2 separate regions of the Homo sapiens genome follow, and region 2 is linked to region 1. The links come from fine-mapping of genetic effects on gene expression. A gene starts in region 1. The other region holds a variant in brackets. All regions are shown on one strand. Distances are between the middles of the regions. Region 1 holds the start of ZBTB49 (zinc finger and BTB domain containing 49). Region 2 has its middle 9.0 kb from the start of TMEM128.

Region 1 (5,374 bases):
AAGTGAACTGCCCGAAGTCACAGTAAGTGGCAGAGGTGGCCTGAAAGACCAGGCAGCAAGCCCAGGCTCCCACCCTGCCTCCATCTTGACCTGCCATGTCCTAGCCGTTTGCTTGGTGGTTACTCAGCACCTGGGACCTTGAGGTCCTCATCCAAAGAGAAAAAAAATTAAGGTCTCTATAAGATGACTTTCCATGTATAAATATTAGAACCCTAAGTCTTAATTATAAAACCTCTGTGCAGTGGGCAAGGAGACCACCCATGTCACAGGAGAGGCTGTCAGGGTCTGGACAGCAAAGCTAGCTGAGGGGCAGCAGCCAGTGGTCACTAAGGGGCTGGGAACTTGTTAGTCTTCTCTTAACAAGATGGTTGCCAGCTTTTGTTGGACAGGGCCCTGACTCAGGTGTAGAGGATCTGAGCTGGAGCCTACATCTGCTAATGTCAAAAAAGTCATTAAAAACTAAATGACCTCAAAGCACCTTAACTTCCCAGAATCTGTTTATCTGTAAAATGGATCTAATACCTAACTCAAAGCATTGGGTGGAAAGTTAAATAAGACACCAGATATGAAAGCTTCATCCCTGCCCAATTGTAGAAAGGTTTCTCTGTGACCTACTAATTTGCACATCAATGCTATTATACCCAGCCCCCTCCTAAACCCATGCTCCTTTAAATATGACCATCAACCCACCCATTTATGTTCATAAATTCACTCCAACCTTCTCTGGCTCCTCACCCCATGGCTGCCTACTTTACCAAGTTCCCTGATAACATGCCCTTAGGTTTGGTTCTGAGATTGGAATGATTTTTTTTAAATCTTCTTCCCTCTATATTTTTGTATTACTTATTCAATTTTTTTTCTTTTTTTTTTTTTTTTTGAGACGGAGTCTCATTCTGTTGCCCAGGCTGGAGTACAATGGCGCAATCTCGGCTCACTGCAGCCTTTGCCTCCCAGGTTCAAGTGATTCTCCGGCCTCAGCCTCCCCAGTAGCTGGGATTACAGGCACATGCCACCATGCCCGGCTAATTTTTGTATTTTTAGTAGAGACGGAGTTTCACCATGTTGGCCAGGCTGGTTGTGAACTCTTGACCTCAGGTGATCCACCCTCCTCGGCCTCCCAAAGTGCTCGGATGACAGGCACGGGCCACTGCGCTTGGCCTTGACTATTCTTAAAATATTCTTGCATGCACATGCAGACACTGACCTACACATCATTACCACCACTACCACTCAAACAGCCCACCTGAGGGGCCTAGCTGGCAACCCCAGGATATCCCCCACTGAACACTGTGACCCTGAGCATGCCACTGCCTCTATAAACTTCAAGTTATCTCATCTGTGAAACAAGAAGTCAGGCCAACTTGACAAGACTCAAGCCCCTTCCACGGGTAGCATTCTGAGAAACCATGGGTATGGTGCAAGAGAAGGACAGACAAACATACTCTGTCCACCATCCTGCCTAAACCTTTGTGTATGAGGCTGACAAGGGTTACAATGGGTGACATTCACAAGGAGAGAATCTCTCCCTTGTTCCTTGCAAAAGCCCTGGGAAGTAGGTGCACCTATCTCCACTAAACAGATGAGCAAACTGAGGCACAGAAGCCATTTCTCTCTGCCTCCTACCCCACCCACGGCATCACCAGCACTGTTTTAAACACCATCCCTTCACTCGAGTAACTACCATGTGTCAGGCACTATGCTAGACCCTGGGAGCCTCGGGCACAGTGTGAGTAAGTCCCAAGTGGGCCCTCTCTGCTAGAAATCAGGGTTGCAAATACAGACCCCACCTCATCCTCCTCCCTCTCTCCTCAGAGGTAGGTGCTTCAGAGAATCCTAACATTCATGGAGCACCCAAGCCCTCTCATAGGAGGTTAACACATTTCTACTCATGTAATCCTCATCACAGTTCTCCGAGTTAGATTCTATATGTTATGACAGATGAGGAAAGTGAGGCGCAAAGAGGTTAAAAAACTTACACCAGGTCATCCCACATCCAGGTAGTGGCAACCCAGATTCACACGCAGTAGTTATTCTGATCCTAAGTATGTGCTCTGGACCGCTACATCCTAAGGCCTCCTCTTTAGGGACTGATCTCCCAAGGCTCAGAGAAGAGCCCTGTCTCCAACATGCAGCAAGCCTGAAGCCCAGTCGGGCGGTGACCAATCGTCCTGGTTTGGCCAGGCCCGAGGGAGTTCCCAGGACGCCGGACCTTAAGTTTTAAAACTAAAACGAGTTGGTCACCCTAAGTCCAGGACTCCTGCCACTTCCCCAGAGCAGGAGTGAGATCTGAATGGAACTCCTTCCTCCATGCGTAACCCAGAGGGGCTGACGGTGGAAATCCCGTCCCTCCCCTACTCACTCTCTGAGCCCCAGCCTCCCAGGTCGGACCTCTGGGCCACCACCCCTCACCTCTCAGCCAGCGCCCGCCAACGGTTTCAACCGGCCGCGGGGAGCACGTGGACTCGCCGCCGCCAGCCCAGCGCCGCAGCTACCTGCCTCTCAGGCTTCGCGGTGCAGAATTCGCTTCTGAACCACCCAGCGCGCCTGCGCACCGCGGCCACGCCCCCCCCAGTGGAAGTGACGCCAACGGAAGCAGGAAGGCGGTTCCGGCAAGCCAAGGGGGCGTTGTCGTGATGATTCCGCGGCCAGCGGATCGCTGCGAGTGGCCTTGAAGGCAGCTGCTGCAGGTGAAGAGTAGGCGGCGGGGCAGAGAGCGGCCTCCGAGGGTAAGGTGGCCGGCCTTGCGAAGGCGTGCGGGGCTGGCGCTGGTGGGAATGGCCCGGAAGGGAAGGGAGGCCGGGCGCCCGAAGGTGGCCCAGAAGGGCATGGACCCACCGCTCCTTCCCGTCTCTGGGCACTCGAGGATACCCGGGGGGTTGGCGGCTCCTGCGAGAGTCAGCGAGCATTTGCTCTGTGCCGGGCATCACAGGGGACGCGGACTGAGACCCAGACGGCCAGGTTCCGGGCCTGGGAGCCGGGCCTTCTCCCTGGTGCAGCTTCCTCGGCCTGGAAACCCCACCCGCGCCCTCTCATCTCCAGGCTTTGCCCGCTGGAAGCCAGCCCGGCCCGCCTCCGCTACGCGCTGCCCATCTCTCGGCTTCTGTTTCCTTCCACGCTGTAGTTGAGAGTAGCGCTTAAGACGACAGAGCCCACAGCCTAGCTCAGTTTCATTACGGTGTGGCCTCTTTGTGCCTCAGCCCCGCATCTGTAAAGCGAATGTCATAGCGGCACCTGCGTCCCTGGAACCTTGTCGTATTTCATGAGTTGGTGCATGTAAATCGCTTAGACTAGTGGCTGCCACTTAGTAAGTACTCAATAAACGTTAGCTCTTCTCAGCCCTTAAAACAGGGTCTGGCACACAGTGGTGGTCACTAGGTGTTTGTTGCTTAAATGAATGAATGAAAGTTGAGTGGAGGATGCACAGAGTATTGTGAGAAACCTTCACTCCCAAGGTGTGTGTATATGGGTGATAAGGTTTCACTCTGAAAGTGAGCAGTGTTGGGCCTGGAATAGAAGGTGTATTAGTTTGCTAGGACTGCAAACAAAATACTGGGTGGCTTAAACAACAGAAATTTATTATTTTCTCACAGTTCTGGAGGTTAGAAGTCCAAGATCAAGGTGTCTTCAGGTTTGGTTTCTTCTGAGACATTTCTCCTTGGCTTGCACGTGGCTGCTTTCTTGCTGTGTCCTCGCATGGTCTTTCCTCTGTGTTTTCACATCTCTGGCGTCTCTCTTTGCATCCAGATTTCCTCTTTATGAGAACGTCAGTCAGGTTGTATTAGGGCCCACCTTAATGGCCTCATTTTAACTTAATTACCTTCTTACAAGCCTGATCTCCAAATACAATCACATTCTGGAGTGCTGGGGGAACAGTTTAACCATAACAGAAGGAATTCACAGAAATGGACAAGGAGGGAAATACTTTCCAACAGAAGTGACAGAATGGCCAGGAGGCTTAAAAGCAGGGTGCTCAAGATGTTTTTTGTGTTCAGGGCACATATGTGTACTTCAGTCTTGTTTGTGCTCTCGTACTGTTTTTGGGTTTGGTTGTTGTTGTTTGTTTGTTTGTCCTCCTGAATACTCAAAGAAAGTGAGCCCTCTCATTTTTTTAGTCTGGCAAACTTAACTCACATTTCAGCATAGATGTGTCTTCCAGGAAGTTTTCCCTGACCCTCCCTCCCAAATTAATTTCTGCTTCCTCCATTTAATAACTTTGGTACAGGGCTGGGTGCGGTGGCTCACGCCTGTAATCCCAGCGCTTTGGGAGGCCGAGGCAGGCAGCTCCTGAGGTCAAGAGATAGAGACCAGCCTGGCCAACATGGTGAAACCCTGTAAACCCCATCTCTACTAAGAGTACCAAAATTAGGCGGGTGTGGTGGCGCATGCCTGTAATCCCAGCACTTTGGGAGGCTGAGGCGAGTGGATCATTTGAGGTCAGGAGTTTGACACCAGCCTGGCCAACATGGTGAGACCCCCACCCCTCGTCCTTACTAAAAATACAAAAATTAGCTGGGTGTGGTGGTGCATGCCTGTAATCCCAGCTACTCGGGAGGCTGAGGCAGAAGAATCGCTTGAACCCAGGAGGTGGAGGTTGCACTGAGCCGAAAGCACACCACTCCACTCCAGCCTGGTCAACTGAGCAAGACTGCGTCTCGGAAAAAAATAAAAAATAACTCTGGTACAGTGCAACGATACTTGTTTTTCCCACTAGACTGATGCTTCATGAAGACATGGATGACCGTATCTGATGTGTTTGCCATCGTACCTTCAGTGCCTAGCGCATAATGGGCATTGTGTAAAGTTAAGTGAATGATGGAAAACTGAGACACAGAGCCTGTGAAGAGTAGGGAACACATCTGTTCCGTTTGTCAGCATTCCATCCTCGCGACAATCTGTTGCACATGTTAGGCACACAGTATCTGTTTAACCCAATTGGCCTTCCCAGTATGATAAGAGTCAGCATAAAGCTAAGACAAGATTCCAGGTTTGTTGCTTCAAGCCAGTGCTTTTATGAGTAGGGTGGAGGTGAGGAGCTACAAGTAAGCCATTTGGAAAGTATGATGATGGGCAGACTCCTTAGGAGCCCTCTGAGGTAAGCTTGACTTTAAGGTGCGTGAACTGTGGGCCCTTGGAGAAGTAATCTATTAATGGCACTGCTGAAAAAACATCCACAAATTCTATCCAGTAGTATTTGACCTGTTGGTAGAATTGAGGGGCCTTTGCTCTAGGAGTCCTCTCTGCAGGTTGAAATTCCATTCTGGCTGTTGTTTTCTTTAGAAGCATTTCTTCATTCACATTGATCTAAACTTTTTCTTGTTTCTTTTCCCCCCATATTTTCATTTTTTGACGCCATTCATACCATCTTTCCACCATC
Region 2 (5,374 bases), 33 kb before region 1:
GAAATAGGATGTTGGGGAGAAGAACAGAGAATAGAGATGCTGGTCTCAACCAAAATATCAGGAACAGGGAAAAGGACAGTTCCTATAACCAGAAAGAAGAGGGGAGAGGTAGGAGGGAGCTGGCCTTGATTGAGAGGCCAGGTGGGCAGGACCCTTGACTATGTAAGTGTCCCCAAGCACTCCTGAAATTTCTGGCTGTGCGGCAACATTTGGGTTCCAGTTCTGTGGGAGGACAATTTCTTTTATTAAATTGCTGCCATTCAGGTTGAGGGCCACTACCAGGCTGGCAAACCTAGAGGACAATGGAGGCGGGTCCTGGCCGACTGCCCTTCCCAGGCGAACCCTGCAGCCTTGTCAGTCTTGTCACTGGCTGATTGTTCGGTGCCTGGAACTTGGTCTGTTACTGCTTTGCAGATGATCAAATAAAGCAGACTCATTTTTTTCTCTTTCAAAAAAAACCCTATATATTTGAATGATGGCCGTGCCTGATATTACCATCCATAAAACCATGATAAAGGCTTTCTGATCACATGGCCCATCACGGAACCCGCTTAGAAAACCCTGTTGTTTTTAATTAAAACCCTACTTGCAAGATCTTTTTAATAGTGATCTAATCAGTACTGAGAAAGGGAAGGGGGAAACAAGAAGGGGGTCCTGACCAATGGAAAATGCTGGCCAGGAGAATACAAAGAAATCAAGGAGACACCTGTTGTGCCAAAACCCTATTGACTCCAATGTAGATACCGCCAGGTTCAACAAGCTAAAGAAGAGACCCAGAGCCAGAGCAAACGAGACATGGAGTGTTACATACAAGAGAGAGTCTGCTGGTGCAGGGCTGGCCTGGATAACTGCACCTGCTTTCGAAAGGCATGCAGCTTATATAGCATCTTCTTTTGACACCCACCCCTAACAACCTCCACGCTATCCCTAGCAACCTTCATGCAACCCAAAACTCAGGGCTTCAATATCCCCTGTACAGCTCGTGTTTCACAGGACAGGACAGGACAGGGGCTCAGATGACAAGGAAAGAATCTCTGGTTGGCCAGTCCCGGATTCCCTAATCTGGAACACACATTCAGGTGCATCTGCCATAAAGGTCATTCCCAGGGTCTGCTTAAGTTATTGCTATCAGATGCATTTACCATACAGCACCTGAGTTCAAATCAGTCCTGATTCTGCTACTTACCATGTGGCCTGGGACAAGTCACGTAAGCTCTCGGCACCTGCTCATCTATGAAGGGGGAGCAATAACGCCTCCCTCCTAGAGATTTTGAAAAGCTTAATGATACATGTAAAGGGCTTATTACTATGCCTGGCATATAGGAAGTACCCATGAAAGGGAACAATTCATATTAAAGTGGAATCCAGGCAGTGGGGAAAGGCTGCCCACGAAGGCCTCATGGTCACTCCCAGGGGAGCAGCAGCAGGTCATTGCAACGCGGCCTTGAAGGGGTGAGGCTGGTGGCCATGCCAGGAGAAAGAGGGCAGGAAGCAGTGGAAGAAAGGATGACTGTGGTGCAAACTGGCCATCATTTACCATGCCCCTCACGTGTTAACTACGCCATCCTCACAGCAGCTGGATGAGGCAGTTACTGTTATAATTCCTATTTCATACATGAGAAAATGGAGGCACCAGCCTTTTTTGTTATGAGATTCAAAGGAGCTTCTTTCAAGTATTCCTTTGCTATGAATGATTAAACTCTCCGTTTGGTAGTTTAATTACAATTACTGAGAAAATACCTACTTTGTCGGAGTTCAAAAGTCAGCCATCCCTCAGGTCTTTGCTCCGTAGGCTCAAAGCTAGGAAAGTGGGGGAGCTAGGATACTAACCCAAGCTTTCGGCTGCCAGGCTAAACTGCGTCTCATGACTCAAAGCACCTCAGGACATAAGCTATTTGTCAGTGTCAGAAGCCGGGTGTGGTGGCTCACACCTGTTATCATGGCACTTTGGGAGGCCGAGGTGGGCAGATCACCTGAGGTCAGGAGTTTGAGACCAGCCTGGCCAACATGGTGAAACCCCATCTCTACTAAAAATACAAAAATTAGCCAGGTGTGCTGGTGCACACCTGTAGTCCCAGCTACTCTGGAGGCTGAGGCAGGAGAATCGCTTGAACCTGGGAAGCGGAGGTTGCAGTGAGCCGAGATCGTACCACTGCACTCCAGCCTGGGCAACAGAGCTAGACTCCACCTCACAGAAAAGAAAGAAAGTCAGTGTCAGCTTCCAACCCAAGCTGGGGTCCGAGGGGAGTAGGTGGACCGGTGGCGGGTAGCTGAAAGAACACTCGAGGGATCTTATACAGGTGGGATATGGCTTTATTCTCTGTGTCAGCCTTTGTCTTGGCTGCCTGCTCAGCAGCCCCACTCAGTGCCAGCTCCACAGTCTGCAGCTGCACTCCCCAGTGTGCTCACCATTTCCTGGCTCCACCCACCCACCCCCACCTGCAAGGCAGCCAACTCCATTATGCATGCCTTCTCACAGTGTTCGTGATACATTTGTGCGCTTCACAGACAATAGCGGCTCAGAGCCAGGGGATGAGCCCACCCATAACATGGTTACATAACTGATTATATGCTGCACGGGATTGTGCACCTGCACTCCAATCCCACTGCGTCATGCTGCAC[C/T]GGATATTTACCTCGGCCCACTCTTGATGGCAGCGCAGCCATTTCCTTTTCCCTTCCCTGGGGCCATTCTTGCTGAATGCTGGCTCCATGGTGCTGGCCATCTCCATAGATGAGAAGCCAGGAGGGAAGATGTGGCAACCTGGGTGCCCCTTTCCACCCAGACCCGTGGCAGATGTTGCTGATCAAATGCAGCATTTATTTCCCTTTGACAGCCAGGTGGAAGCCTCAAAATCCTGAAGAGCACCGGAAAATCACTGCCAGTTGACTAGAGTTAGTTGTAGTGTCAGATAGAATCTATTTGCCATCCCTTGCTTGAGGGCTTAGGACATGCCCAATAATAGTACAGAAATTCAATAAGGTATTCGCCAACTGAGGGTCACTTTTATGCCAGTAAGAATCTGCATGTCATCCCCTTGAGAGACTCCACACCTCCTCATCAAGAAGTAGTGAAAATGACATCCGGGTGTGATTTCTCACAAAAGAGAAAGGAACGAAAGAAATTTTTTTTAATGTAAAAAGGAAAATCATACCATTTGACCCAGCAATCCCATTACTGGGTATATACTCAGGAATATAAATCATTGTATTATAAAGATACATGCACACATATGTTCATTGCAGCATTATTCAAAATAGCAAAGACTTGGAACCAACCCAAATGCCCATCAATGATAGACTGGAAAAAGAAAATGTGGTACATATACACCATGGAATACTATGCAGCCATCAAAAGGAACAAGAGAATATCCTCTGCAGGGACATGGATGAAGCTGAAAGCCATTATCCTCAGCAAACTAATGCAGAAACAGAAAACCAAACACCACATGTTCTCACTTACAAGTGGAAGCCGAACAATGAGAACACACGGACACAGAGAGGGGAACAACACACACTGGGGCCTACTGGAGGGCAGCGGTGGGGTTGGGGAGAACATTAGGGAAAGGAGCTAATGCATGCTGGGCTTCATACTTAGGTGATGGGATGATCTGTGCAGCAAACCACATGGCACATGTTTACCTATGCAACAAACGTACACATCCTGCACATGTACCCCAGAACGTATAAAAATAATTAAAAAAAAGAAAATCACAAACGTCAATGTGCAAACACATGTTTGAACACAGCGTATGAGGAAATCCCTCTGCCAACCTTAGAAAAATCAAAGTGTTGCCAGGAGCAGTGGCTCACGCCTGTAATCCCAGCACTTTGGGAGGCCAAGGCAGGTGGATCACCTGAGGTCAGGAGTTCGAGACCAGCCTGAACAACATGGAGAACCCCATCTCTACTAAAAATACAAAATTAGCCGGGCATGGTGGTGCATGCCGGTAATCCCAGCTACTCAGGAGCCTGAGGCAGAAGAACTGCTTGAACCCGGGAGGCAGGGGTTGTGGCTAGCCGAGACCGCGCCATTGCACTCCAGCCTCGGCAACAAGAGCAAAACTCTTTCTCAAAAAAAAAAGAAAGAAAGAAAGAAAGAAAGAAAGAAAAGAATAGACAAAGGAGAGAAACTGTCAGCCTTTCAAGACTGGCAACCGTGAGCAGAATGCCCAGCTGTGAGGGAAAGGACAACCATATTAGAATCCCAGCCTGGGTGCTGTGATGCGGCAAGAAGCAGACCTGACATTCAGGAACCGACACAGCACCTGGCACAAAGAGCCCCCAAGATACAGTAGCTAGGCCGGGCGCGGTGGCTCACGCCTGTAATCCCAGCAATTTGGGAGGCCGACGCGGGCAGATCACCTGAGGTCAGGAGTTCAAGACCAGCCTGGCCAACATGGCAAAACCCCGTCTCTACAAAACATACAAAAATTAGCCGGGCGTGGTGATGTGCCCTTGTAGTCCCAGCTACTCGGGAGTCTGAGTTACAAGAATCACTTGAACCTGGGAGGCAGAGGTTGCAGTGAGCTGATATCATGCCACTGTACTCCAGCCTGGGTGACAGTGAGACTCTGTCTCAAAAAAAAAAAAAAAAAAAAAAAAAAAAAAGATACAGTAGCTGCCATCATTACAATTGTCTTGAAGTTACTGCCTATCCCTATAGACCCACAACTCTCAAACTCATTCACACAGTAGAGTGCCAGGCACACTTTTGTAGAACATCATGAAATCTGGATAAATTAAGCAAAAAATAGCCAAGTGCTATAAATGTTTATGCCAGCTCTCCTAGCATCTAAATTAGAATCTCATGGCCACAGATGCCAAAAGGCTTAAGAGGTGTTACGCAGGGACACTAAAACTGAGAAATTCTATGACCTTAACTTTTTTCTGAAACCTGCAAGAGAGACTACCGTTTCAAGTTCAGCTGTATAATACCTCCCTGTTCAGTATAAAATCAGTCTGAGCGGGGCTATCCTATGACATTACTACTATAGTATCCTGATTCAAATTTGCTGCCAAATCCCCAAAGCCATGCTGTTAGCAACTGCTCAGTGGAACCGAATCTTTCCCTACCTTTGATCTACAATGGACAGAAGTCGGCCTGAGGTCACCGGGAAGGGAGGAGGGCAGCAAAGGTGGTATTTCAACAGCTCACAATACCCGCTCTGTGGCCAAACAAAGGCCTGACCTCCTGAGCGATGTGTGACCTTTAAACTCTGACAAACATATGTATTTACTCAGCAATTACAATTTAAACTACCCAAGGGGCAGTTTAATCACTTGTATCAGAGGGAATAAATTAAAGCTTCCCTAGATCCCATAACAGCAACAAGAAATGAAAGTAGCATTTGCACTCAAAAGAAAACAAAGAAAC

Evidence for each region. PIP is the estimated chance that this variant, and not a neighbour inherited with it, causes the effect.
Region 2: its variant is fine-mapped to the expression of ZBTB49 in subcutaneous fat (GTEx, PIP above 0.99).

What each region holds. Positions count from the first base shown.
Region 1 is chr4:4,287,627-4,293,000 of GRCh38, forward strand. ZBTB49 (zinc finger and BTB domain containing 49) reads left to right here and starts at 2,625. Exons shown (of 8, transcript NM_145291.4): 1 at 2,625-2,726. LYAR (Ly1 antibody reactive) reads right to left here and starts at 2,528. Exons shown (of 10, transcript NM_017816.3): 1 at 2,410-2,528. RefSeq lists enhancers at 477-1,015, 1,016-1,553.
Region 2 is chr4:4,254,538-4,259,911 of GRCh38, forward strand. No RefSeq gene overlaps it. Among named protein-coding and RNA genes, the nearest start is that of TMEM128, 9.0 kb to the left of the region's middle. RefSeq lists enhancers at 2,503-3,003, 4,985-5,279. The variant C/T (reference allele first, on the strand shown) is at 2,623.